Regions from separate parts of the Homo sapiens genome. Here regions 2, 3, 4 and 5 are each linked to region 1. Evidence: fine-mapped expression QTL. A gene starts in region 1. Each other region holds a variant in brackets. All regions are shown on one strand. Distances are between the middles of the regions.

Region 1 (5,000 bases):
GTTCAAAACTACTCCATATTTATTTTGGTAGGATACAAAACCACTGTCTCAAATTAGAGGGAAGGAAACAGCATATGTATTTGGTATATCAGCTAGAGAGGCAAAATGGCTCAAAGAGAAAAGCAACAAACAGAAATCTCCCTGAGTTACTGAAATCCTGGAGCAGATTTTTCACTTCAAATAATTATCTCATAAGTACTGTGGGTTTTAGAAAGAAAATAAAAATCTGGCCAGGTAGGATGGCTCACTCCCATAATCTCAGAGTTTTGGGAGGCCAAGGCAGGAGGATCACTGGTAGCCAGAAGTTCAAGACCAGCCTGGGCAAATAAAATAGACCCAGTCTCTACGCAAAATTTAAAACTCAGCCAGTCGTGGTGGTGCACGCCTGCAGTCCCAGCTACTTGGGAGGCTGAGGCCAGAGGATCGCTTAAGCAGAAGAGTTCAAGGCTGCAGTGATCTTGCCACTACACTTCAGCCTGGGTGACAAAGGGAGACTCTGTCTGTCTTTCTCTCTCTCACACACACACACACACACACACACACACACACACACACGAAACGTAAAAAAGAAAAATCTATAGTAATCAACTATTCTCATCTAAATGTTGCATATGGTTAACGTAGAAAAATAAATGACAAGTCAATCAGTAACACTGTGCATAGAAACCACCGTTAAGCACTTCATTCACCTGTTACAGAGATGCCAAATTAGCTCTTCAGTTTAGCTTATTTTAGAGTGCTAGTTATATTTGAACTTGATACCTATCCTCCAAAAAAACCAAAATATTTCCGAACATTAACTCACAGTCTTTCATGTCATCTCTGAACAGGAAAGGGGACATTTGCTGCCTTTTGCTTCAGAAAAATCAACCACCATACTGAATCATGTAATGGAAATACTTATATCTTGTTCTGAGGTTGCTGCTCAGATCTTGAGTGAAATATAATCACATGGTAAGGGGACCTGGGCCCTAAACACTTCATCCTGTCTACAGCTAAAGAATAGTACAGTATATGAGAATCCATCAGGATCATCACTTCTTACATGTGTTCGTATTGTCAGCACAGAATACGTAGCAAGTGTTCTACAGACGTCGAAAGAACTAGCAAACCCACTGTTGTTTGTGGCGCTCTCACTTCCTGTACTATTTTATTACTCAAGATAAGCCTAAAAGAACAGACAAAACTATCACGAAAACGATTTCTTAACAGAACTATTTTAAAACAAGAGAATCCTCAATTAAAATCATGCCATTTTCTTTCTCTGAAATCTTTAAATTACAGATGTGCTCATCTTTGTTGCCTGGATATGAGTTCTTTCAGCTGGGCAGCGGGAGACTCAAAGTAGTGACTTTTAAGGGATCCTACCAGAGGTGGGGGAGCCAATATAAATTACGTATCCTAATCTGAGACACTCTTCTGTCCTAATACCTGAAGCTTATAGCTTGTCAGGTGGCTTTTCCATGGAAAAACGAGGACATAAGAGAGAGGGCGGACCTTAAGAGTTCTACGGAGGAGCCGGTAACGGCAGCAGGCTTGTCAATCAACTGCAAGGTTGCAGCCCAAAAGAAAAAGAACTCACTTGATCGCTCATCATCGACTCCTCAGAGGCCCTCTAGGACTACCGAGAATCTCTTGCCCTTTGGCTCTTGCCCCCGACATCTCTCCTGGCCCCCCGCCCTGCCCCAGGAGGTCTGGTCCTCTCACCCGCTGCCAAATTCTCACACAGCCTCAAAGGGATCCTCAGGGCGTAAAGCAGCCCCAGCCCCGCCACGAACCACAACGAGGCCCCAGTCCCCGCCAGCCCGGCCCGCAGTCGCTCCCTCCAGCCTAGCGTCGGGTTTAGGCCAGGGACAGATGCAGGAGACGCTCCAACAGCTGCGGCTTCACCCACGCCGCCACGGTCCGCCATCTTGCCGCTATCGCAGGCGCCAGGAGCTGGGAGGGGAGAAGGACAGGAAACCGGGAGTCGGGAATCCTGGGATAGTGGCGGACCTGAAGTTGGCCTCTGTGAAGGCTGAGTCCTGGGGAACCGGGACCGAGAAGATTTCGAAGGTGGAGGAGCGTGTCTCAAGATTGGGGCTACCTGTTCTTTCGTGGGGCAGGGAAGGGGCGGACAGCAGCGCCTATTCTGGAGGAACTGGACTGAGATGTGACCCCGAAGTGTTACCGCTTCCAAACGAAATGAGGGTCACCTTTCACACCGCCCCCCCCCCGGGGTTGGAAAAGCCACCGATCGTTCCAGCTGCCGAGCAGCTCTTAAAGCTTTGGATTCGGCTGTCGTGGAGATAACGGGCACCAGAAAAACTTGTAGGAGTAGCAACAGCTATTTGGTCGGATGGAGGCCAGAAGCCAAGAATAATCGAAACACGCTGCCAGCGCCCATTAGATGGATGGGAAATGAGTGTAACTCATTGGGAAAGATATTAGACTTCAAATCACCTAAGGCAAACCCTACTTCCTGGGGCGCGGGCGCGGGCGCTGGCGTTAGGAGACGTCACTCCCGCGCATAACTGACATGGGGCCCTCTTGGTCGGCGTTTCCGGGCGGGTCCTTCCGACGGCCGCCGCGGTGATTCCATCACTCGGCTTTCTTCCCGGCCTGCCTCGCGCCCGTAGCCGGGCTGGGCCAGAACAGCCCAAGATGGCCGACTTCGATGATCGTGTGTCGGATGAGGAGAAGGTAAGGGGTCCGCCTCTCTCTCTTACCTCCTCCCCCGACAGGGAACTGGGGCCCGGCCCGGCTGCGTTGGGAGCCTAGCAGTGTCCCCAGGAAAAAGAAGCTTCTTGGTCCATGCTGACATACGCTCTCCGCAGTCGGGACGCTTCCCTCTTAGGGGGCTTTCCTCTGCCTCACGGTGGCCCCAGTTCCTCGTTCCTCGACTCTCCTTTTCTCTCAGGCCTGAGGCACAGCCCAGGGGCCTCCCTGCAAGGGAACAGACGTTTCCTTTATTGGATCGTGACTGTGGACTTTTTTCTGTAATTTTGCGAGAGGGTGGTGGTTATGTTGCGACATATCAAAAAGCAGTTATTTTACCGCCTTTAGCAGTTGGGGCTCACCCCATCCCCCCATTTGTAGATATAATTGGGGTTAGTTTAGGGCGAGTCACTTCCTGGTCAGGATGGCCTCTTAACTTCCCTTTTGCTCCTCCTTCCTCAGGAAGTGATTTTGCTGTCACGACTCTTCGACAAGGAGAGGTCCCAAATGTTGTCCATCTCCCTACACATGCACTACTTTTCTCCTGTACTGTCGCCTGTCTGATTCGCTATAATAAATCTGTGAGCCTCAGGGCATTTGCTTCAGAATTTGAACACCAGTCTTTCCCTATAGACACATCCCTTTTAACGATAATTTTTGAAAATTTTGTTTCTTGTTAACAAATCTAGAATAGCTGATGGATTTTCTTAACCTCCAGAAAGGTTTTCTGTAACACATAATAAACCTTATGTTAACACGTTCAAGACTGAACAAAGCATCCTGCCTTCTTTGATGCTCCACTGTGGAGTCTTTGATCAGTTGAATTTGTCAGTGTGCATTTTGTATGCTCATTTCTTGAAAAGGGTCTTAAATACAAGAGCACATTCTAAGGTGGAATAACTTTTCTTCTGACAGTTGCACAGTTTCATAACAGTTTGTCAGGCTTTTCAGTAAGTACATGGTTTTAGGGCACGTAGAACTTAGAATGACCTCACAAGGCAACTTATTGGACAAGAATTATGACATTTGTCTCCCACTGTGGCTATTAGAAAATGTGTCCCCTTGAGTGCTCTGTAAATCTACCTGGGTGTTTTTTTCAATAAGAAGTTGGGATGGGAAGGGGACTGTTATGATCCATAAGTCCTCTGTACGGAATAACTTGATATATGTAGATATGGCATGCCATTTTGAAATGTTTAACAAGCCATTGACAACAGCGTTAGATTTTCTCTTATTTGGAAACTGATCTTCATACATGTTTAAGATTTAGGACAAAAACATTTATGTATAAGCCTATGCTGGAAATCGATCTATAATAAATTGTTCTAAGGCAAATAGTTACTATTCAAATAAAATTAAGCAAAAATCCTGTTACAATACAACTAAACAATTTTTTTTTTTTTTTGAGACGGAGTCTCGCTCGGCTCACTGCAACTTCCGCCTCCCTGGTTCAAATTATTCTCCTGCCTCAGCTTCCCGAGTAGCTGGGATTACAGGCACCCGCCACCAAGTCCAGCTAATTTTTGTATTTCTTGTAGAGAGTGGGTTTCGTCTTGTTGCCCAGGCCGGTCTCAAACTCTTGGGCTCAAACGATCCATCCGTCTTCGCCACTTAAAGTGCTGGGATTACAGGCGTAAGCCACCGCGGCCGGCCAAAATTTCACAAATAATTTAAATAATAAACTTTTAAGTTTATTGTGCCTACCTGATACACATTGACCAGTGTTGTTGGATTTTTGTCTTTGATACCAGGTTAGAATGCCTTTAATTAAACTTGGGAAAATATATATTTTAAAATGCCAATTAAGATGCCTTTAGATACTGGCAGTGTTTTAATTAATAACATTAATGTCTTGGGTTATGGTTTTTTTTTTTTTTTTTTGAGATGGAGTCTCGCTCTGTCACCCGGGGTGGTGTGCAGTGGTGCGATCTCCGCTCGCTGCAACCTCTGCCTCTCTGGTTCAAGCGATTCTCCTGCCTCAGCCTCTCGAGTAGCTAGGATTACAGGCGCCCGCCACCAAGCCTGGCTAATTTTTTGTATTTTTAGTAGAGACGGGGTTTCACTATGTTGGCCAGGCTGGTCTCGAACTCCTGACCTCATGATCTGCCCGCCTTGGCCTCCCAAAGTGCTGGGATTACAGGCGTGAGCCACCGAGCCCAGCCAGTATTGTTTTTTTTAATAGCAGATCTGTGACCAGTTTCCTCTTCTAGCATACTTTTTTTGTTGCCAAGTATATTTTAATATTGTTTTTTATCTTTGTTACATTTTCTAAAGGCAGTGAACCTTTAGAAAATTTGGTGATA
Region 2 (5,000 bases), 100 kb before region 1:
ATCCAGGGTTAAAACTGAGTGAAGAGAAAATATTGCCTTGAGAAACAATAATGACTCTGGCAACCCACCTATTCTTTAGTAGCCCATCTCAATTGACCTTCTTTTAATTGTTCATATTGGACAGACTGGAGACTGCAGTGTGGGGAGAGTCATCCTCTTACTTATCTTGGCCTTTGGCTTCCCACTGCAGACAGCCCTTGCAGGTCCATCCAGGTTGGGGAAGATGGTTTTAAAAGGTTCATTAGTTAAGAAAGGCCCTGGGGCCTGGAAATAAAGGGTTTGAGGAGGAGAGTAGAGGGTGGGGTCTTCCTCCCCGGACCTCACGATTGGGAATGAGGATTTTTTTTAGCTACACGGGTCTGACTAGAGCTGTAAACGTTACTCAGATTGCTCACTATGTCTCTTCCCACGAGCCCCTCCCTGTCACCACCCCCCTGCTGTCAAACCATATCTTCGTGGACCAGCCATGCGGGACATCCCTCTTAATGGGAGCATAAGAGTGTTGTCTCAGACCCTTATTTTGTTAGTTTATGTTTCCATGAAGCTCTTAATGTTTATTAAATAAACAGACAATGAGTTTGTGTGACATGCCCACAGCTTCTGTGTATGTGACACATGCCTAGCCTGTGTTCTGGGAGTGTATGTCACTTTGGCCTTTGGCTGGGGAACTGGTGATGGTGGGAGGCCACTCAATTACTCTCTCTGCAACTGTATAACTATTAATACTTCTTCAGAACTGTGGGAAATGGTTCTACTCATCAGCTTTATGGAATGTGGGTTAGGGAGAGGGGACAGAATCTCTTCAAGGTCTGGATGCTAAACGTACCCCTTCCTTATTCCCTCCCAATGCAGAAAAAGGTCTGGGATGTTCTGACAGGGCCATCTCTGCCTTGCAGGTACATTGGGGCACTGGGGGCACGAGTGATCTGTGACAATATCCCTGGTTTGGTGAGCCGGCAGCGGCAGCTGTGCCAGCGTTACCCAGACATCATGCGTTCAGTGGGCGAGGGTGCCCGAGAATGGATCCGAGAGTGTCAGCACCAATTCCGCCACCACCGCTGGAACTGTACCACCCTGGACCGGGACCACACCGTCTTTGGCCGTGTCATGCTCAGAAGTAAGAGCCTCTTCCATCCTGTGTCAGCTCCTTCCCTTTCTGTGCTGGGGGTGGTGAGTGGGAAGAGTAGGCAAGATCTCCCCTCTCCTCTCCCACACACTGTTTCATCATCAGAGAAAGAACTGTGGGCAGAGCCCAGGATATAATTGGGAACAGACTCTTAGCATCTTAGATTTGTAGACAGGGGCTCCTCTAAATCTTAGTGCTCTGGGACAAGACCAAGGTAAAGCATTCCCTAGAACCTCCATCTTTCTCCCTCATTTTCCTTGTCCTCCCCAATCCCCAGCTTGGGAGGCTACCATGTACTGTAAGGCTGAGGTCTATGATAGGCCCTCTGTTCTTAACACCACCATCACTATCGTCACCCCAACACTCCCAACACTACAGTAATGGGAACAAAAGATAAACAGAAAGGTGATATGTAAATATTTGGAGAGTCAGTGGCTTGGCCTCAGCTCAGCAAAAAAGCTAAATAGAGCTAGACAGTAAACTAGGAGAAAGGGAACAAGATGGGAATCTGGAGGTGTCAGGCATACAGGGGCGATAATTCATCAGTCTCCAAGAGCAGGGAGGGAGAGCAAGCAGGCAAGGGAGGGTAGCATGGATCTCTAAACAGGCTGACCCCTGGGCTGGGGTCTCCATTGTGGGGGAACTGTCCAGCAGAGTGGGCCTGAAAAGGCCTGGAATGTGGACTAAGGCAGGCTTAGCTGAGCCAGTGCTGGCACTCAGTGGGAGGGGATGATTCACCAGGAGACTTTTCAATGGATGGACACAGGGAATTTGGCAGGAAACAAGAGTATAGGTCAGCTCAAAAGGTCAGATATACAAAGAAGTGGATAGAGAGTAGTGAGGGCTGAGGGGAAGAGGTCAGATACTCTGGGGAATGCTCTTGGAAATGAAAGGCACCTTGAATAAAGGGGGTGTAGGGGTGACTCTGGGAAAGAAAATTAGGGAAGAGGTTTCAGAGTCAGAGGTTGTATGGGCTGAAGAAGGGGACAGACATGGGCCTCTTTCCTGAAGCACACCTCTACAATTCTCTCTCTAGGTAGCCGAGAGGCAGCTTTTGTATATGCCATCTCATCAGCAGGGGTAGTCCACGCTATTACTCGCGCCTGTAGCCAGGGTGAACTGAGTGTGTGCAGCTGTGACCCCTACACCCGTGGCCGACACCATGACCAGCGTGGGGACTTTGACTGGGGTGGCTGCAGTGACAACATCCACTACGGTGTCCGTTTTGCCAAGGCCTTCGTGGATGCCAAGGAGAAGAGGCTTAAGGATGCCCGGGCCCTCATGAACTTACATAATAACCGCTGTGGTCGCACGGTCAGTACTCATGTCTGTGTAAGTACACTCATATTTGCTGGGGGTGACCAGTGTGTGTGACCATGGACTAAATAAATGTGAAGATGGAAGAGCTGAAGGCTTCTGGGTCACTTCCAAAAGCCCCAACATCCTGGGACAGGAGAACTAAATGCAAGGGAGCTTAGGAATGCCTAGGGTCAA[T/A]CAGGTGCGTGAAGAGTCTTCACATAGGTGGAAAGTAGGAAAAGGTGGAGAAAAGAAGTAACTTTTTAAGAAGGAAAAGAACTGCCTTCATAAAGACTGAGAGGATAAGAGGTTGTTCTAGTCAGTTCCCTGGTATTTGAACATCTTCTATGTGCCTAGTACTATGCTGGAAAATGGCACACCACTAAAGTAGAAGGCATGGTACCTGGCACTCTAAAACGTGAAAAGTAGAGGATGTGCAAGCACACTGTCATCGTGAACAGAATCCTGTGGCTCTACAGTTCAGTGGGCTGTCATGAAAAGGAAAGCACTGTTGGTTCAGGCAGATTTCCTGGAAAAAGAGTTTCTTGAACTTGATCAGGAAGAATGGGTGGGATCTGATGTGGGAGAGAACCGAGAGCTCAATCGGCCAGCCAGGGCCAGGTCCAGCCTATCTCAGAGCACTCATCCTTTTGGACCTAGGGATGACTAAAATGTGTCCTGACCAGCTACTTCTCCCTTAACTGCCTTCCCCCTCCCCCAGGCTGTGCGGCGGTTTCTGAAGCTGGAGTGTAAGTGCCATGGCGTGAGTGGTTCCTGTACTCTGCGCACCTGCTGGCGTGCACTCTCAGATTTCCGCCGCACAGGTGATTACCTGCGGCGACGCTATGATGGGGCTGTGCAGGTGATGGCCACCCAAGATGGTGCCAACTTCACCGCAGCCCGCCAAGGCTATCGCCGTGCCACCCGGACTGATCTTGTCTACTTTGACAACTCTCCAGATTACTGTGTCTTGGACAAGGCTGCAGGTGAGTAAGGAAGGCAGGCAGGGACATGCAGTCCCAGTTCTTAGTGCAGGCACCCCTGGTTAATCATGGTCTGTTCAGTCTCAGGAGTTAGGGAAGGGGGTGCTGTGGGAGGAGGCAGTTTCCTCTCCACATGAACACCTGGTCATGAGATTGTTGCAGTCCACCAGGCCCAGTGCTGCCCAAGTAGAGAGGAGGTCACTCAGCTCCTTGAGGCCTGAGGTCATGCATCGCTCCTTTGTATCCCAGCATCTGGGATACAGTAGGCATTATTCAGGGTATGTTTAACTTAGTTACCTGTTTTCAGTTTTAAGCAATGTGTGGGCTGCACAGAAACATAAGATGCAGCCCTAAGCCTTTGGCTCTTCGCAATCTACTTAAAGAAATGAGACATAATGGGTAGACAAATGCAAAGAGAGATGGAGAAATCAATAAAGTTTATTTGAAAATGTAGGGAAAAAAAAGAAACTAGAATTTAAGCTGCTCCTTGAAGTGTAGGGAGTATCTGGATAGCTTGAGAGACGAGTGGGCAATTTCTTATCAGAGAGTAGTAGGTGGGAAAGCACATGATCTGTCCCAGGGACAGAGAACAGACCAATCTGCTGGGTAAAGGTTCTCTCTAAGGGAGATTAAAGCTAGAAAGATGTCCTTGAAAGGCTTTATCCAGTGTGCTGCCATTGAAGATTCTGAAACAGCTGAAAAAGAAACGAAGAAGAGATCCCTACCAAAGGCAGGTAAAGCAGCAAATGGTTGTTTTTCAGTCTGTTCGAGGTATTTGTGGTGGGATTCTTGGAGGTGCTGGAAGTTGATATGGTTTTTCCCCAAGGGAATGAAAGTTACCATCCTGGCTCACATTTCTGGTTCAGATAGGTTAAACTAGGAACATGCAATGCAGCAGAACTCTTCTCCTCTGGTTATTGCTGTGGGGCTCCCAGGCTCTTTTCTACAGGCTCAGCGTCAGGACTTGGGTGAAGTGGAGCCAAAAAACCTCAGCTATCTTCGGTACTGTTTGTTTTCACCCATCACTGTCATTCCTGGAAGAGTCAAGTGGCTTGGAGTAAAACTGGGCACAGAAAAAGGGTGGGGCTCTACCCAATTAATGAAGAAAGTAGTCTGTATACTTTGTAGGGTGCTAGAAGAAAAAAACTTGGAGCCCTTCTGATTTTCCTAGTGATTTCCTGCCACTAAGTATACTTTCCTCCCACTTGGTCTAATTCAGAGGGTCACTCTCTGGATACCTAGAAATAATTCCATAACATCTGAGGTGTAAACCTATACTACCATACTGAAAATACACCTTTAGGGAAGGAACTTTGGAGTTAGGAGGGAGGATAAGTCAAATGTGTGTTCGTTTTTCTCAGAGGCATAAAATTAGGCCTCCTAAAACCCAAAGTGGGCCCTGGAATTCAAAGAATATAAGTCATCCCAGAAAGAATATGGAGCCAGGAATTCCCTCCAAAGCAATAGAGTCCAATTGAACTTTCTGTGATGATAGAAATGTTTTCCTATCTCTGTTGTCCAATACAGTAGCAACTAGCCACATGTGATTACTGAGTACTTGGAATATAACTAGTGTGACTGAGGAGCTAAATTTT
Region 3 (6,293 bases), 45 kb before region 1:
GACATTAAAATGTTAAAGTGTATATGTGTGTATGTATATCTATCTATCTATATATCTATATAGTTTTATTTATTTATTTGAGACAGAGTTTCGCTCTTGTTGCCCAGGCAGAGTACAATGGCATGATCTTGGCTCACTGCAACCTCCACCTCCCAGGTTCAAGTGATTCTCCTGCCTCAGCCTCCTGAGTAGCTGGGGTTACAGGCATGTGCCACCAGGCCTGGCTAATTTTGTATTTTTAGTAGAGATGGGGTTTCTCCATGTTGGTCAGGCTGGTCTCGAACTCCTGACCTCAGGTGATCCACCCGCTTCGGCCTCCCAAAGGGCTGGGATTACAGGTGTGAGCCACCACGCCCAGCCTATATAGTTTTAATGAAGCATACTTTATATATCCCAAAATTCATGTTTGTAACTATAGACATATCTTGGACATATTGCAAGTTCACTTCCAGACCACTGCAATAAAGCAAATATCAAAATAAAGCAAGTCACACAAATTTTTTGGTTTCCCATGACATATAAAATTTACTTTGCCCAGATCCACCAGAGGAATCACTATATATGGGACCTACGGCCTTACTAAATGTATTTCTGAAATAATAGGACTTCCAAGTCAAAATGACTTCTTGATCTGTGGGCTGCAGAATGGCTGTTGTGTTAGCAGGTGTGGAAACATTAATCTCCTTGTACATCTCCAACAGAGCTCTTGGGTGACTAGGTACATTGTCAATGAGCAGTAATATTTTAAAAAGAATCATGTCTCAGCAGTAGGTCTCAACAGTGGGCCTAAAATAGTGTTTAAACCATGCTATAAACAGATGTGCTGTCATCCAGGCTTTGTTGTTCCATTTATAGAGCACAGGCAGAGAAGATTTAGCATAATTCTTAAAGACCCTAGGATTTTTGGAATGGTAAGTAAGCACTGGCTTCAACTTAAAGTCACCAGCTGCATTAGCCCCTAAGAAGAGAGTCAGCTTGTCCTCTGAAGCTTTGAAGCCAGGAACAACTTCTCCTCTCTAGCTATGAAAGTCTTAGTTGGCATCTTCTTCCAATAGAAGGCTGTTTCATCTACTTTGGAAATCTGTTGTTTCTCAACATGAGCAAAGCAGAAAAAAGAAAAAGAAGAAAAAAAATTTGAAGAAAATCTTTTGTTTATTATATCTACCTTCATGGAATAAATATAACTCTAAATCAAAGATGAAATTATAAACAGATTAGAAAATATTTTGGGCCAAGGGAGGTGGCTCACACCTGTAATCCCAGCACTTTGGGAGGCTGAGGAGGGAGGATGCTTGAGGCCAGGAGTTCAAGACCAGTCTGGGCAACATGTGGAGATCCTGTCTCTATTTTTTTTTAAAGAAAATATTTTGAACTAAATTATGTAAAAAATGTTGCTATAGTATGCAGTTAAAATTGTGTTGAGAGAAGTTTCTAGATTTAACTGGGTATATCAGAAGAAAGACGAAAATTACAGAGTTAAGTACCTATGTGAGAAGACACAGGAAATTAAAATAAAATAAACTCAAATTAAGTTGAAGGAAGGCAATAAAGAGCAGAAATGAATGAACCAGAAAATAAATAGTAGAAAAAACCCAACAAAGCCAGAGCCAAGTTCTTGGCAAAAACAAGTAAGATTGGCAAATCCCTAAAGAACCTGATCAAGAAAAATAAAACTAGCCAAGGTTAGGAATTAAAAAGTGGGGCCAGGTGCAGTAGCTTATGCCTGTAATCTCAGCACTTTGGGAGGCCGAGGCGGGCTGATCATCTGAGGTTGGGAGTTTGACACCAACCTGACCAATATGGAGAAACCCCATCTCAACCGAAAATACAAAATTAGCTGGGTATGGTGGCGCATGCCTGTAATCCCAGCTACTCAGGAGGCTGAGGCAGGAGAATCACCTGAACCCGGGAGGTGGAGGTTGCAGTGAGCCGAGATCGCGCCATTGCACTCCAGCCCGGGCAGCAAGAGCAAAACTCCCTCTCAAAAAAAAAAAAAAAAAAAAAAGAATTAAAAATTGAGTATTACAACTAATGCTGCAAATACTAATATGGCAATAAAAGGATTTTATGAATACCTTATGTCAATACATTTGAGAATTTTGATGAAATAAATTTTTAGAAAAATACAACTTAACAAAAACATAAGAAGAAACAAAAAATTTCAATAGTTATGATATGCTTAGAAATTGAATTTGTAATTAAACTATTAAAGAAATGAAATTTGTAACTCAAAGTCTTCTCACAAAGAAAACTGAAGAATCAGATGGCTTTAATAACAAATTTACTAATCATTTAGGGCAGAAATAATTCTAATTTTATACAAATTATTCCACAGAATAAATAAACAGGGACCACTCTTTAACTCATTTATAAATCCAGGGCCAGGCATATGTTTGCTCACACCTGTAATCCCAGCACTTTGGGAGGCTGAGGCGGGCAGATCGCTTGAGCCCAGGAGGTGGAGGTTGCAGTGGGCCAAGATCACACCACTGCACTCCAGCCTGGGCATGAGAGCAAGACCCTGTCTTCGTTTTTTCTTTTCCTGTTTTTTTTTTTTTTTTTTTTTTGAGACGGAGTCTCACTCTGTAGCCCAAGCTGGAGTGCAGTGGTGCGATCTCGGCTCACTGCAACCTTCATCTCTAGGACTCAAGTGATTCTCCTGCCTCAGCCCCCCAAGTAGCTGGGACTACAGGCGCACCCCACCACACCCGGTTAATTTTTTTGTATTTTTAGTAGAGACAGGGTTTCACCATGCTGCCCTGGGTGGTCTTGAACTCTTGAGCTTAGGCGATCCACCCACCTCGGCCTCCCAAAGTGCTGGGATTACAGGTGTGAGCCACTGCGCCCGGACTTTTTTTTTTTTTTTAATGAGACAGAGTCTCACTCTGTCACCCAGGCTGCGGTGTAATGGCACTATCTCGGCTCACTGCAACCTCTGCCTCCTGAGTTCAAGCAATTCTCCTGCCTCAGCCTCTCGAATAGCTGAAGAGTCTGTCTTAAAAAGAAAAAAAAAGCCAGACGCACTGGCTCACGCCTGTAATCCCAGCACTTTGGGAGGCCAAGGCGGGCGGATCACAAGGTCAGGAGATCGAGACCATCCTGGCTAACACTGTGAAACCTCGTCTCTACTAAAAATACAAAAAATTAGCCAGGCGTGGTGGCGGGCGCCTGCAGTCTCAGCTACTTGGGAGGCTGAGGCAGGAGAATGGCATAAACCCGGGAGGCAGAGCTTGCAGTGAGCCTAGATCACGCCACTGCACTCCAGCCTGGGCGACAGAACAAGACTCCGTCTCAAAAAAAAAAGAAAAAAAATCCATAAATAAAAAGTACAGATAAAAAACATAAAGGGAGGAAATAAACATAATTAATAAATAAGAATACAAATGAATAAGAATAGTGGTTACCTTTAGGTAGGAAGGGAGGTTGTAATGGGAAAGGGCAGTCAGGTAGGCGTCTGTGGGTTGATAATGTTCTGTTTCTTGATCTCGATAGTTTTCAAGCATTTACTTTGTAATAAATCATTAAGATGCACATTTTTGTCTCATACACTTTGCTGCATGTGTAGTAGAACTCATAATAAAAAGTTTACAAGGCTGGGCGCGGTGGCTTATGCCTGTAATCCCAGCACTTTGGGAGGCTGAGGCGGGCGGATCACAAGGTCAGGAGATCGAGACCATACTAGCTAACATGGTGAAACCTCGTCTCTACTAAAAATACAAAATAATTAGCTGGGCGTGGTGGCGCGCACCTGTAGTCCCAGCTACTTGGGAGGCTGAGGCAGAAGAATCGCTTGAACTCTGGAGGCGGAGGTTGCAGTGAGCCAAGATTCTGCCACTGTACTCCAGCTTGGG[C/T]GAAAGCAAAACTCTGTCTAAAGAAAAATAAAAGTTTACAGTACTCACTCCTTATCCTCAGTACATATGTTTTAAGACTCCCAGTGGATATCTGAAACCACAAATAGTACCAAACCCTACGTACACCATGTTTTTTCCTCTAAATATATGCCCATGATAGAATTTAATTTATAATTTAGGCACAGTAAGAGACTAATAACAATAACTAATGATAAAATAGAACAGTTATAACAATATGTCAATCTTGCATTTGGGGTCACTATTAAGTAAGATAAAGGTTACCTGAACACAAGCACTATGATACCATGACAGTCGATCTGATAACCGAGTTGGCTACTAAGTGACTAATGGGCGGGTAGCATAGACAGTGTTGGATATGCTGGACAAGGGGATGAGTCATGTACTAGCCTGGATGGAGGGGGATGGTGTAAGATTTCATCAAGCTACTCAGAACGGCATGCAACTTAAAACTTATGAATTGTTTATTTCTGGAATTTTCCATGTAATATTTTCAGACAGAGGCTGACTGTGGTAACTGAAACCATGGAATGCAAAACCATAGATATGGGTGAACCGCTGTCTTTAAATTTATGGAACCAGTGTCACTTAATGAGAGAATGGTATAAATATTTGTTGACTCTCTTTCTTGGATTTAAGTACTTTTCTTAACCATATCTTTACTTACTCTAACAGGCTTACAACATCCTTTTCTTGGAAATTATCTTTTAGCAATTAATCTCTTTACTGTAGCTCTTTAGCTTCCAAGCTCTATTAACACCCTTTCACTGGAATCAATAGCTATAATTACTTTCCGTAGTAAGGGCATCTATTCTTGAATTGTCTATACTTCCTAACATGGGGCATTGTTTGTAGAACCCCAATTTTTTTTTTGAGATGGGGTTTCACTCTGTCACCCAAGGCTTCAGTGCAGTGGCGTGATTGCAGCTCACTACAGTCTCGACCTCCTGGACTCAAGCAATCTTCTCCCCTTGGTCTCCCAAGTAGCTGAGACAACAGGAAGCATCACCACACTCAGATAATTTTTATATTTTTTGCAGAGATGAGGTCTCACCACATTGCCCAGCCGCTAGTCCCAAACTCCTGGGCTCAAGTAATCCTCCCACCTCGGCCTCCCAAAGTGTTGAGATTATAGGCATGAGCCACTGTGCCCAGCCCAAACCCCAAAATTTAATTTTGTGTTGTAACACACAAAGATTAAGCAATAATTTGTATAACTGCAAGGTGTACAATATAAAGACAAAGCAAGTATATAGACTCATTGGGGACGAAATAAGCATCAGCCAGTTTTTCTGGGAATTTCCACATCTGCCTCCTATCATTGATTATTTTAATCTGTTTGTCTTCAGTTTTTGTCTACCCAACCCTAGTTCAAAACCCAGGCATCTGTCTAGAAAAAGCTTTCACAGTAACAGGAAATTTGATTTAGTGATAAGAAATATGAATAATCTTTTATTAAGACCAACCCATTATTTATTTTCTACAACTATACTAAAAGAACAGCTAAGTGAACACAGTTCAAATTATATTTTGATAGTAATTACAAAGCATATAGCTAACTATTGCTCCTATCTACCTTTCTAAATGCCTAAATGTTTCAACGTCCCCTGTAAGGTGAATAATAAGCATCAAAATATAGCAGATTAAAACAATTCTGCACCAAATTATGGTGACCCAGACTCTGGTCTACGAACTGTCATCAATTTGATAAACTTAAATAAAGGTAGTATTTTTATCATAAAATTTCTCACTTTTGGAACATGAGGATTAAATTCCACAGCTCTATGAATTGCTTCCACGGCATTAATTTCTGCTGTGCTTAATCCTCTTCTGGAGGCTGTTTCTGGAGAGAATCTACAAGAAAACCACAAAATGAAAAAATAAATATGCTAAAAAAAAGAAAAAAAGTATGAATTTAGATAATAATACAGCCCCTTGAATCAAAAGAAGTTTCTGGAGATGGCCAAAAACAAAGCCAGAGGACTAACAAAAAAAAAAAAAAAATTAAAGCTGGCCGGGCGCAGTGGCTCATGCTTGTAATCCCAGCACTTTGGGAGGCTGAGATAGGTGGATCACCTGAGCTCAGGAGTTAGAGACCAGCCTGACCAACATGGAGAAACCCCGTCTCTACTACAAATACAAAATTAGCTGGGTGTGGTGGTGTGTGCCTGTAGTCCCAGGCACACATGGGAGGCTGAGGCAGGAGAATCACTTGTACCCGGGAGGCAGAGGTTGCAGTGAGCCAAGATTGTGCCATTGCACTCCAGCCTGGGCAACAAGAGTGAAACTCTGTCTCAAAAAAAAAAAAAAAAAAAAAAAAAGTATAGTCTTGTGGGTTCAACATAGAAAAAACAAAGCAGCATAAGGAATGAAAGTCTTCAAACTTAGGTAAAGAAGGCCTTCAGGAGAAGTCCACTGAAGGTA
Region 4 (5,000 bases), 53 kb before region 1:
CTACTTAGGCCACAGTACAACATAAGGGAAAGGCAAAGGTTTCATTGTGCTCTAAGTTTGGGTCACAGACTTCAACACTTCTCCTTTGCTCTCTTTACCCCTGCTATGCCACTCGGAATGTCAACTGAGCACCTGTTTCCCTTTTATCTTTTATATATGCCGGTGCTATGATATAAGTAGTTTAGCCAGTGAAATGCAAGTCTGCTGCTAAAGAGCTACTATCAGCTGGGAGCAGTGGCTCAGCACTTTGGGAGGCCAAGGCAGGTGGCTCACCTGAGGTCAGGAGTTCAAGACCAGCCTGGCCAACATGGTGAAACCCTGCCTCTACTAAAAATACAAAAATTGCCCAGGTGTGGTGGCGGGTGCCTATAATCCCAGCTACTTGGGAGGCTGAGGCAGGAGAATTGCTTGAACCCAGGAGGCGGAGGTTGCAGTGAGCCGAGACTGTGCCATTGCACTCCAGCCTGGGCAACAAGAGCAAAACTGCATCTCAAAAAAAAAAAAAAAAAAAAAAGAGCTACTATCTTCTAGGGTGGATAAGACTTGTAACATTCTACGGGCTTCCATTTCTGATCAACCAGAACAGATTTTACTTTCTATGTATCAATTTATTTTTAAAACTTCCTCTGCACTTAAAAGTCTCCAGGTATAGTCTACTTTCTTGGCAGCATAACACTAAAAGCAGTTTTATTGTAAAATAAGAAATAGTAATTTTTATTTATTATTATTATTATTTGAGATGGAGCTTTGCTCTTGTTGCCCAGGCTGGAGTGCAATGGCGCGATCTCGGCTCACTGCAACCTCTGCCGTCCAGGTTCAAGCGATTCTCCTGCCTCAGCCTCCCAAGTAGCTGGGATTACAGGCGCCCACCACCATGTTCGGCTAATTTTTTTTTTTTTTTTTTTTTTTTTTTTTTGTATTTTCAGTAGAGACAGGGTTTCACCATGTCGGCCAGGCTGGTCTCAAACGCCTAACCTCAGATGATCCAACCCATCTCGGCCTCCCAAAGTGCTGGGATTGCAGGCGTGAGCCACCACGCCCAGCCAAAATAGTAACTTTTAAATGCTACAGATAGCGAATTTCTAAATATGTACTCCAGTTATAAGGATTTACTAAACACACTTTTGTTATTGTTTTGTTTCTTACTGCTCTACTTTACTCTTGCCCTAAGGGCTTCTTCTGTAAGACACAAACTGTTTTCAGGGTATTGTAACTAATTCAAATTAGTTATTACCTAACTATTATTACGTTATTAGCTAATTCAAATTAGTTAATTCCTAACTGTTTTCAAAATCTTCACCACTACCTCATCTCAACAAAGGAATCCCCCAAACCTTATACATTCTAAGGCTACAAACACTAAAATAACATCCACAAAGAAACAAACACTGAACAACTCAAAGAAGATGGGCCAGGCACAGTGGCTCATGCCTGTAATCCCAGCACTTTGGGAGGCCAAGGTGGGCGGACTGCTTGAGCCCAGGAGTTCAAGACCAGCCTGGACAAATGGCAAAACCCCATCTCTACAAAAAATACAAAAATTAGCTCCGTGGCATGCACCTGTAGTCCCAGCTACTAGGAAGGCTTAGGTGGGAGGATCACTTGAGCCCACCAGGCTGAGGCTGCAGTGAGTCATGATCATGCCACTGCACTCCAGCCTGGATGACAGAACAAAACTCTGTCTCAAGAAAAAAAAAAAAGGTACAGAAATAAAGTGACAACCACCATGATAATCAATAATAGCCTGACACTCAGACACTGTGTTAAGCACTTCACATACATTATCTAATTTCATCAGAAGGCATGATACTTTTACAATGCTTTCCATGCTAAGTCAAATTCTTTTTTCTTTATTGAGGTATAATTTTAAATACATAGATCCTAAATATGCGGCTTGATGAGTTTTGACAAATGTAGACAAGTAATGCCCAAATCAAGACATATTTTCTTTTATTTCTTTTTCTTCTTCTT[C/T]TTTTTTTTTTTTTTTTTTGAGACAGAGTCTTGCTCTGTCATCTAGGCTGGAGTGCAGTGGCGTGATATAGGCTCACTGCAACCTCCACCTCCTGGGTTCAAGTGATTCTCCTGCCTCAGCCTCCCAAGTAGCTGGGACTACAGGTGTGTGCCACCATGTCCAGCTAATTTTTTGTATTTTTAGTCGAGATGGGGTTTCACCATGCTGGCCAGGCTGGTCTCGAACTCCTGACCTCGTGATCCGCCCTCCTCAGCCTCCCAAAGTGTTGGGATTACAGGCATGAGCCACTGCGCCTGGCCATCAAAACGTATCTTCTTTCACTCCAGGAAGTTCTCCTTTCTAGTTAATGAATGTTTCACCTGACCACCTGAGGCAAACAGTGTTTTCATTTCTACCACCACAGATCACTTTTTGCCTTTTCTTGAACTTCACATAAATGGAATCATTCAGTAAGTACTTGTTTATATGTCATATTTTTGGTTTCATTCATGTTTTGCTTGTATCAGTAGGTCTTTTTATTGCTGAATACCACTGTATTGTAACTTACTTATCTATTTACCTATTGAAGGACATTGGGATTGTTTCTAGTTTGGGGCTATTATAAATAGAACTGCTATGATATTCATGTTCAACTCTTCTTGTGGACATATGATTTCATTTCTCTTGGGTATATACCTTGGAGTAGGATTGCTGGATCACAGGTTGAAGGATATATTTAATTGTATCAGAAATTGCCAGTTTTCCAAAGTGGTTGTACCATTTTGTAATCTTAGCAGCAGTGTATGAAAGTTCTGACTTTCACATTCTTATTGACATTTTATCAGTCTTTTAAATTTTAGTCATTCTGATAGATGTGAAAGTATTACTTCATGACTTTATATTGCATTTCTCTCATAACTAATGATGTTGAACATCTTTTCTTTTTTTGCCTGCTTCATTTTACCTTCATATGAACATCTCTTTATGTGTTATTGGACATTCCAATATTTTCTTTTGTAGTATCTGTTCAAGGCTTTTGCCCATTTTTTAATATTGTGTTTTTTTATATGTATATATTTTGGATACGAGTCCTTTGTCAGATAAACATATTACAAATATTTTTTCCTGTCCATGGCTTGCCTTTTTGTCTTAACACTAACATGAGCAGACTTTTAAAATTTTGATAAAGTTCAATTTGTAATTGTCTTCTCTTATAATTGCCTTCTATGTCCTAGGAAATCTTTCTTTACCCCCAGCTTTCAAAGATAGTCTTAGATGTTTTGGTCTAGATGTTGTATAGTTTTGGTTTTTATATTTAGATCAATGACACATTTCAAATTAATTTTTGTGTATGCTATGTGAAAAAAATTCATGATTCCCTCCCACCACATTTAGATATCCAGATGTTCTAGTACCATTTGTTGAAGTTCCATTTCCCCATTGAATTGCATTGGTGCTTTTGTCAAAAATCAATTGACAGTATATATGTGAATGTTTTGTCACATATATGACAGTATATATGTGGATCCATTCTGTGATTTTGTTTTTTATAGTAATTATTTTATATTTGAATATAAAATAAAATTTAGAAGAATTCAGCTATAGTATGCTTACTTTAAAAATCATCAATAAAATATTACAGCAAGCCATTGTTAGATCTTAAAGTTGGGCGATATTATTCTAACTGATGTGTGAAGTGTCATACCAACAATAGTTACATTTATAGTAGATCACTGACATTCAGGGATCTAACGTTTACAATTTCTACTCTTTGTGGGAGCTCCAAATACCCATGATGTATAGCAGGCATCATTTTGCTAAGGCACAAATTTGAATAACATGCTTTGAGGCTTGTGCACGCATGTGAATGATGTACCTAATGAATACATCTAGCAGGCTCTTTAGCATCTGTATCTCAGCAAGGTTTGTGACCCATTCTCATGTTTACATTTCATAGGTGAAAATACATGTAATAGTGGCATTTTCAAATGTGGATATTCACAATGGTTCTGGATCACATTAATCAAGAGTGTCAATGGTCTACTGTAATAATATTTTTTTTTTTTTTTTTTTTTTGTGAGACGGAGTCTTGCTTTGTCGCCCAGGCTGGAGTGCAGTGGCATGATCTCGGCTCACTGCAAGCTCTGCCTCCCAGGTTCATGCCATTCTCCTGCCTCAGCCTCCCAAGTAGCTGGGACTACAGGCGCCCACCACCATGCCTGGCTAATTTTTGTATTTTTAGTAGAGACGGAGTTTCACCGTGTTAGCCAGGATGGTCTCGATCTCCTGACCTTGTGATTCGCCCGCCTCAGCCTCCCAAAGTGCTGGGATTACAGGCATGAGCCACTGCGCCTGGCCAATAATAATGTTAAAGAATACCTTATAATAAAAAGATAAATAGAATACCTTTAATTTAAAAAACAAAAAAACAACAACAAAAAAACAAATTTAGGCCAGGCACAGTGACTCAAGCCTGTAATCCTAGCACTTCGGGAAGCTGAGGCAGGAGGATCCCTGGAGCCCAGGAGTTTGAGACGAGCCCGGGCAACATAGGGAGACCCTGTTTTTTATAAATATAAATATAAATATATATATATATATATATATATATAAAACAAAAATTTAAAAATATGCAACTTGAACATATATCTGTCCAAAGAAAAAACACAAACAGCCAATAAACATATTAAAGTGATGCTTAATATCATTAGTCATTAGGGAAATACAAAACAAAACTACAATGAAATATCACTTCATACCCATTGGGATAACTATAATAAAAAAGACAGATAATAATAAGTGTTGAGACAAATGTAGAGGAACTGGAACTCACACATTGCTGAGGGAATGTAAAATAATGCAGTTACTCTGCAAAACAGTTTGGCAGTCTCTCAAAAAATTAAACAGAATTACTTGCGATCTACCAGTTCCACTTCTAGGTGTATACTTGAGAGAATTGAAAAATTTATGTTCACACAAAAACTTGTACATGAATGTTCATAACAGCATTATTCATGCTAGTCAAAAAGTGAAACCAACCCAAATGTCC
Region 5 (6,691 bases), 86 kb before region 1:
GTTTAATCAGTACATTCTACAACTCTCTAGTATTATTATAATATTTGCATGAGTAGTTTAGAATTTAGCCTTGGGCCTGCTCTTCTACCATTTTACCATATTTACTGATTACATTTTACCATATTTTACCATATTTACTGATTACATGCCTAATTTGTATAAACTCAAGGAGAGGTTCTGTGCCTTTTTGTTTGTTTTTTGAGATGGATTCTCGCTCTGTCACTAGGGCTGGAGTGCAGTGGCGTGATCTTGGCTCACTGCAACCTTCGCCTCCCAGGTTCAAGCAATTCTCCTGCCTCAGCCTCCTGAGTAGCTGGGATTACAGGCGCCTGCCACCACATCAGGCTAATTTTTGTGTTTTTAGTAGAGACAAGGTTTCACCATGTTGGCCAGGCTGGTCTCAAACTCCTGACCTCAGATGATCTACCCACCTCGGCCTCCCAAAGTGTTGGGATTACAGGAGTGAGCCACCGCACCCAGCCTCTGTGCCTATTTTAAAACATATATCCCAAAGTCATATCCCCAGTGATCCAGCTAGTCTGTTACTTTAATGAGACAGCTCAATAAAGATAGGAAATATTTTTTCAGTTACTTAAAGAGAAAATAATACTGGTGGTTCTCCCTGTAAAGAGGTAGAATTGCCAAAAAATGCAGAATTGATCAGCAAAACCCAGCTATAAAGAAAGGGCAAAAGGAACTTTATTTTAGTGCCTTATCCCAATATCCTTTTATTTAGTTTTTTGATTAACATGATGTGTGCCTATTTTCAGAATCAGTGACTGCCAGCTGCAGCTCTTGACATTATCAAGTGAGCTCTGGAAAATTCTGGGTAGCTCTTTCCTATTCTCTCACATGCCCAAAGAACTAAGTAATTTTGGTCCTAACTCTTACTATTCTATTCTTCTTCACATGAAATCACATTGTTTCATACTGAAAACCAGGATGGCTATTAGTTCTTATTAATCTGTCATTATTAGGAATGAGAGGATATAAAAGAGGTATATAAAATGTATGAGTGTAGAGCTTTTGTCTAAGGCAATTACTCTGTGAATCTGAGGTGAGACATTTCTTAAATTTTGAATTGTGGAGCTCTCCATTTTTTGATAAATTATATTCATATAAACATTATAATAAATAACACTGCTTACAAAAAGATGAATTCCAGCTGCTGAGTATAAAGATGAAAGTACTCCACATCACATATTTGGAAAAGAATAAAGATATCTCTTTCTATATGTTCTTGCTTGACCTAACCGAATAAATTCTTCTGAAAGGAAGCATAATCTATTAGTCTAGACTGACCTTTTGGGTCACTATATCTTACGGGAGCCGTGTGAAAATAACTCACCATTCCCTTCCAGTCAAATAAATGAATATTCAAGGATGAACTCATCTATTGTGGCAATAGCTTCCACCTTATACTAATACATCTTCATGCCCATCTCAAACCCCCTACCACTAGACTATGAGTTACTTATGAACAGGGATTATATTTTATACTTCACAGGTACCCAATGAATTTGAAATGCAAAGACCTGTTATATGTTATAGGACAATCATTACCATATTTTAGCATGTTATAGGACAATTAAAACCATGTTTTAATTTGCTGAGGCTCTTTACAAATCTAAACTTTGAAAACAAATCAAGACAGGCCCTATTGGAGTCCTTCCATTCAATAAGCCAACATTCAAAGAAGACTCTTTTCAGGTTATCCAGGACTCTCTGAACTGCATGTTCTACTGCAGTTTTTGTTTTTTGTTTTTTAAAGGTGGTATTACAAGAGCTAAAATTCACCAAGGGCAAATTAGTAAGAAAAGTCTTCACAGCTAGGGCTTAGCCAAATTAGAATCCCTGGGCTCGCAATAAGGGCTAAACCCCTAAAGGGATCAGAGTCTAATAAATAAAAAACATCCAGCTGAATTTTATCAGAGGGCAAAGTTTCAACTTTGAGTGCCCCAGCAACCAAGGATGAATTATGCATAAGATTAGTAAAGTGCCTTCGTCCACACCCTAGACAGAGAACATTTTTCTATCTCACTGTGACTGAAGGAAAACCAGCAATGTATTTGCCTGCCAAGAACAGCTGTGGCTGTACTCTTGATAGGAGTCTAACAACACTGTCGGATTAAAATTTAATTGTAAAGCTGCTGCTACCTGGGAGTAAAAGCATGAGCTCTGGCTTCAGAAAGAAACTGGGACTGCAGCATATTGAATAAATGAAGACGAGAGCTGGCATGTTCCTAACAAAGAGTGTGGGAATGTGCTCCCTTCTCCAACTGTCCCCTAAGCTGCATCTTTCTCTGTCACATTGGTCATCTGCAAGGATGTTTAAAGGAAACATAGCCCTTTTCTACACTTTGAACAGTTTTATTTCTAGAATGCTTGAAATTACAGAGTGAGGTCAGAAGGTGATTATGTGATCTGCATTCTCTGAATATCCTACTCTTAATTTTGTTAAGTATTATTGAATCCCAAATAATTTCTCTCCTTGAAGCTGGCTACTGTCAAGACAGACTTAAGACAATCTTAATGTTATTACAGAACAAAGATAATTTTATGATTTCCTCAAATTCAGATAGAACACCCAATTAAAACCCAATATTTTATTGAGGCCTCATGAGCATTAAGGAACACACCCAAGTTTCCTACCTATTGATACAATTACTAGAAGTACCTCTGCTACCTAAAATTCCTACTTTAGGGAAAAAAGTTATAGGTTATGATATTTTAGACCAAAAGTTTATTATGTTCAGTTTATCTTTCCCCTACAATCCTTCACAAACTTGCCCTTTGATTTTGAAAGAAGACTGATATTGAAACATAAGGTATACATTTATACTTCATATTAAAACTTTAAAAAAGTAACTTGAGAGTCAAATTCCCTCTGAATCATTACAAACCAGGGCTTACTGTTTCTTTAGTATTATTGTACATTTTAAGCACTTAGAGAGGCTGAAGTCTATGCAGTAACGTTTGAGTATGCAATGTAAATGACCAAGCGGCATTCTTTCTTAAGTAGCTAACTAGCAAGAGGAATGACATTGGAATGAATCAGTTTGAAAGAAAAGCATATGTGCGTTATTTTATTTTATTTTTTTTTTTGAGATGGAGTCTCGCTCTGTTGCCAGGCTGGAGTGCAGTGGCGTGATCCTGGCTCACGGCAATCTTGGCCTCCTGGGTTCAAGTGATTCTCCTGCCTCAGCCTCCCAAGTAGCTGGGACTACAGGCGCGCCACCACGCCCAGCCAATTTTTGTATTTTTAGTAGAGACGCGGTTTCACCATGTTGGCCAGGATCGTCTTGATCTCTTGACTCATGATCCACCTGCCTTGGCCTCCCAAAGTGCTGGGATTACAGGCGTGAACCACCACGCCCGGCTGAGTTCTTTATTTTTAAGTAATTAATTTATGTATATATGTATGTATGTACCTATTTATTTAAGACAAGGTCTTGCTCTGTGTCCCAGGCTGGAATGTGGTGTTGCTATCATGGCTTACCATAACCTCCAACTCCTGGGCTCAGATGATTCTCCTGTCTCCGCCTTCTAAGTAGCTGAAACTACAGGGGTGCGCCACCATGCCTGGCTAATTTGTTTTTATTTTTACTTTTCATTTTTATGAGCTCTTACTACTATAATTACTACTGTAATTGCCCAGGCTGGTCTCGAACTCCTGGGCTCAAGCAATCCTCCCACCTCAGCCTCCCAAAGTGCTGGGATTACAGGTGTCAGCCACCATGCACAGCTTTCATTCTTTATTTTAAAGCATTGGAGTTCATCAAACAGACTTAAACTGTGAAGAGTACTCCCAGGCAGCTTATTTGCCCACTGATACTTGTCTTTGCAGTAAACATTTCTCCAACCTAAGCACCCTTTTTATTTTTCTGACAATCCACATCAG[T/C]ATCTTCATTTAAAACTCTTCTCCAAATTTAACTCTTTTAGGAAAGTTTCTCTAGCAAGCCACTGGATATCACCACTCTGTCATTCTCTATTCCCTCAGCATTACTATCTCTGGTATGAAATTTATTCTTTTGTACTCATTTCAGTGTAAGTTATGAAGTGATATATTATTGAAATCAAAAGTATGTATCATGACTAAAAGTAATAAGCTATCTTATCAATTGTGTAATTTTAGGCACATCACTTAACTTTGATGACTCAAACTTTACATCTATAATGTTCCCATGGTTTCGGTAAGTCTATGTTCCAATGGCTCCAGTAAGAATAAATGAGGATATAAGTATAATCTCTTTTAAAAAATGAAGCACTAACTGAAGTCTGAGTTACTCTTGGTTTAGAATTGTAATATATTATGTAGTCTCACTAATTTAGTTCATTTGATTGGTAGGGGAAGGGAGCCAAACTCCACCAAGATAAAAGCTAAAAACTATTCCTCAATATTATAATTTTCTTCTGTACCCCATGATTCTCCCAATTTAGAGGACTATGCTGGGTCTGCAAGATAGAGATGTTTTCTAAAACAAAGATCAGTGTTTCCTATTGTGAATTATAATATCACTAGGAGAATGGGTTTCGAATGAGTGATTTATATCACTATCTAAGCACAGCTCTTCTAAAAACTGCTAAGCACTCCATGTGTCCCAAGCGCTAATGATTAAGCAATAAATATATCAGTAGCAGTTAGTGACATGATGTCCTAAATTTTAGCAATGAGATTTTCACTTTGAGGGGGAAAAAAGATGATTAAACATATGTGAAACAAATTCTGGGAGAGCTTCTGTGAACCTCATACTTGACAGGCACATGTTAATGGGAAAAAAGGATACTTTCTACCAACTTTAAAACTGAATTAAACCCTGGGGAAGGGATATACACATGCGTTAAACGGTATATTGTTGGCTGGGCGCAGTGGCTCACACCTGTAATCCCAGCACTTTGGGAGGCCCAGGTGGGTGGATCACTTGAGTTCAGGAGTTCAAGACTAGCCTGGCCAACATGGTGAAACCCTGTCTCTACCAAAAATACAAAAATTAGCCAGGCATGGTGGTACATATTGTAGTCCCAACTACTTGGGAGGCTGAGGTGGGCATATGGTTTGAGCCAGGAAGGTGGAGATTGCAGTGAGCCCAGATGGTGCCACTGCACTCCATCCTGGGCAACAGAGGCAGACTCTGTCTCCAAATAATAATACTAATAATAATAAGAAGAAGAAGAAGAAGAAGAAGAAGATGAAGAAGAAGAAGTACATTGACATGGCTGGGCACGGTGGCTCAAGCCTGTAATCCCAGCATTTTGGTAGGCCGGTGTGGACAGATTGCTTGAGCTCAGGAGTTGGAGACCAGCCTGGGCAACAAAGTGAGACCCCATCTCTATAACAAATTTTTAAAAATTAGCCTAGCATGGAGGCACATACTTGTAGTCCCAGCTACTCGGGAGGCTGAGGTGGGAGGATCACTTGAGCCCAGGTTGCAGTGAGCCGAGATGGCACCACTGCACTCCTGCCTGGGTGAGAGAGTGAGACTCTGTCTCAAAAAAAAAAAAAAGTACATTTTCCTAACTTTTATTATTTTCTTTCCCCCTTAGAAGAGCTCAGTGCTTAGAAAATCTGGATGAATAATAATACCAGCAATTTCACAAATTTCTTAGTTTGGTTCTTTTTGAAGCAGAAAAACAAGGATGAAACATGAGAAATACCCTTCTAGGAGGTAGAGAACGTCTTTTCTCTTGATCCAAAATCCCAGTTAGTAAAGAAAATTAAAATTGAATATGCGAGACTGCCCAAATAAAGACTTTAGATGCACCAACAATGGAACAAATATGTAAACATTTAAAAATTTTGACCTGTCACACAATAGGTTTATTTTATTATCTGTATTATCTCTGGGAAACAACTCAGATTTATAACTGTGGAAATAGCATGGTTATAGAATATTTTACAGAAATGTAAGTTTAGTTACATTTCAAAATGTTTTTAAAACTGTATCAGTTCTTACGAACTAAAAAAGTCTCATAGCTTTGAAAGTAATCCATTTTCAAACAAAGTGAAGAAATTTATTTTAATCATTAATTTAATTTCTGAATGTGGCCCTAGGAATTTAATAAAGAAGTATACAACTATCATGTCACAGGTTATAATAATGGAAAACTCAGAACCTTTAAAAAAACATATATTTTTCAATTGGTATACATTAATATATAGTTATAATTGTTTATTAACTCCCCCGGTTCTGAAGATCAATCTTTTCCCTGAAAAAAATGGTAAGAATAGTGGACAAATCTTCCCAAAAGTTTTGTTCACTTTTCAGTAAAAGACACTTGGCATTTATATCTGCTTATTCTTTTAAAAATGTAATTTGGGAAGAAAAATTTTAATTATTTTTGAGAAGGGACTAAAGAAACCCCAGTGAGACATTCTGTAGAGAGGTTCTTTGTTAGTGTAACATCTGACCTTCTATATCTTTGGAAATCATGCAACTTGGCTAATGTAGTCCTTAAAGAATTAATCAAGCAGATTGTAAGGCCCTAGTTACAGTGGAGCCAGCCAATTATGAGTTGCTCAGAAATTCATCATTGGCATGTCCAACCACATTTTCCCACATAAAGATTAGTAGAAATATGTGGAAACAAAGCCCATTCCCACCGCAGCACAGCTACAATATGCGTTCAGTAAAACAAACTTCAACAAAGTTTTGCTGTACTAAAACAGACAATTTATTTGGGAATCTCTGAT

Which allele goes with the higher level. Positions count from the first base shown, and alleles are read on the strand shown. Sizes are in standard deviations (SD) of each study's normalised expression. Not every link is listed here.
For the expression in prefrontal cortex of the gene that starts at base 1,940 in region 1, allele A in region 2 goes with a lower level than allele T (moderate effect, 0.49 SD a copy in GTEx).
As copies of T replace C in region 4, the expression in monocytes after triphosphate RNA of the gene that starts at base 1,940 in region 1 goes up (large effect, 0.92 SD a copy in Kim-Hellmuth 2017).
As copies of C replace T in region 5, the expression in spinal cord of the gene that starts at base 1,940 in region 1 goes up (moderate effect, 0.50 SD a copy in GTEx).

What was found. PIP is the estimated chance that this variant, and not a neighbour inherited with it, causes the effect. A credible set is the group of variants that fine-mapping cannot tell apart.
Region 2: its variant is the best candidate, but not a certain one, in a credible set for the expression of ST7L in prefrontal cortex (GTEx, PIP 0.87).
Region 3: its variant is the best candidate, but not a certain one, in a credible set for the expression of ST7L in subcutaneous fat (FUSION, PIP 0.89).
Region 4: its variant is the best candidate, but not a certain one, in a credible set for the expression of ST7L in monocytes after triphosphate RNA (Kim-Hellmuth 2017, PIP 0.54).
Region 5: its variant is the best candidate, but not a certain one, in a credible set for the expression of ST7L in spinal cord (GTEx, PIP 0.74).

The regions. Positions count from the first base shown.
Region 1 is chr1:112,617,202-112,622,201 of GRCh38, forward strand. ST7L (suppression of tumorigenicity 7 like) reads right to left here and starts at 1,940. Exons shown (of 15, transcript NM_017744.5): 1 at 1,708-1,940. The coding sequence starts at 1,912. It overlaps CAPZA1 (capping actin protein of muscle Z-line subunit alpha 1), which reads left to right and starts at 2,631. Exons shown (of 10, transcript NM_006135.3): 1 at 2,631-2,682. The coding sequence starts at 2,644. RefSeq lists enhancers at 1,904-2,003, 2,112-3,311, 2,464-2,913.
Region 2 is chr1:112,513,978-112,518,977 of GRCh38, forward strand. WNT2B (Wnt family member 2B) reads left to right here. Exons shown (of 5, transcript NM_024494.3): 2 at 897-1,117; 3 at 2,163-2,440; 4 at 3,144-3,408. It also overlaps a transcript of ST7L not described here. Among named protein-coding and RNA genes, the nearest start is that of WNT2B, 7.5 kb to the left of the region's middle. The variant T/A (reference allele first, on the strand shown) is at 2,621.
Region 3 is chr1:112,571,366-112,577,658 of GRCh38, forward strand. It overlaps ST7L (suppression of tumorigenicity 7 like), which reads right to left. Exons shown (of 15, transcript NM_017744.5): 11 at 5,621-5,723. Among named protein-coding and RNA genes, the nearest start is that of ST7L, 45 kb to the right of the region's middle. The variant C/T (reference allele first, on the strand shown) is at 3,852.
Region 4 is chr1:112,564,326-112,569,325 of GRCh38, forward strand. All of the region lies in intron 11 of ST7L (suppression of tumorigenicity 7 like), which reads right to left. Among named protein-coding and RNA genes, the nearest start is that of ST7L, 52 kb to the right of the region's middle. The variant C/T (reference allele first, on the strand shown) is at 1,972.
Region 5 is chr1:112,530,233-112,536,923 of GRCh38, forward strand. All of the region lies in intron 14 of ST7L (suppression of tumorigenicity 7 like), which reads right to left. Among named protein-coding and RNA genes, the nearest start is that of WNT2B, 25 kb to the left of the region's middle. The variant T/C (reference allele first, on the strand shown) is at 3,902.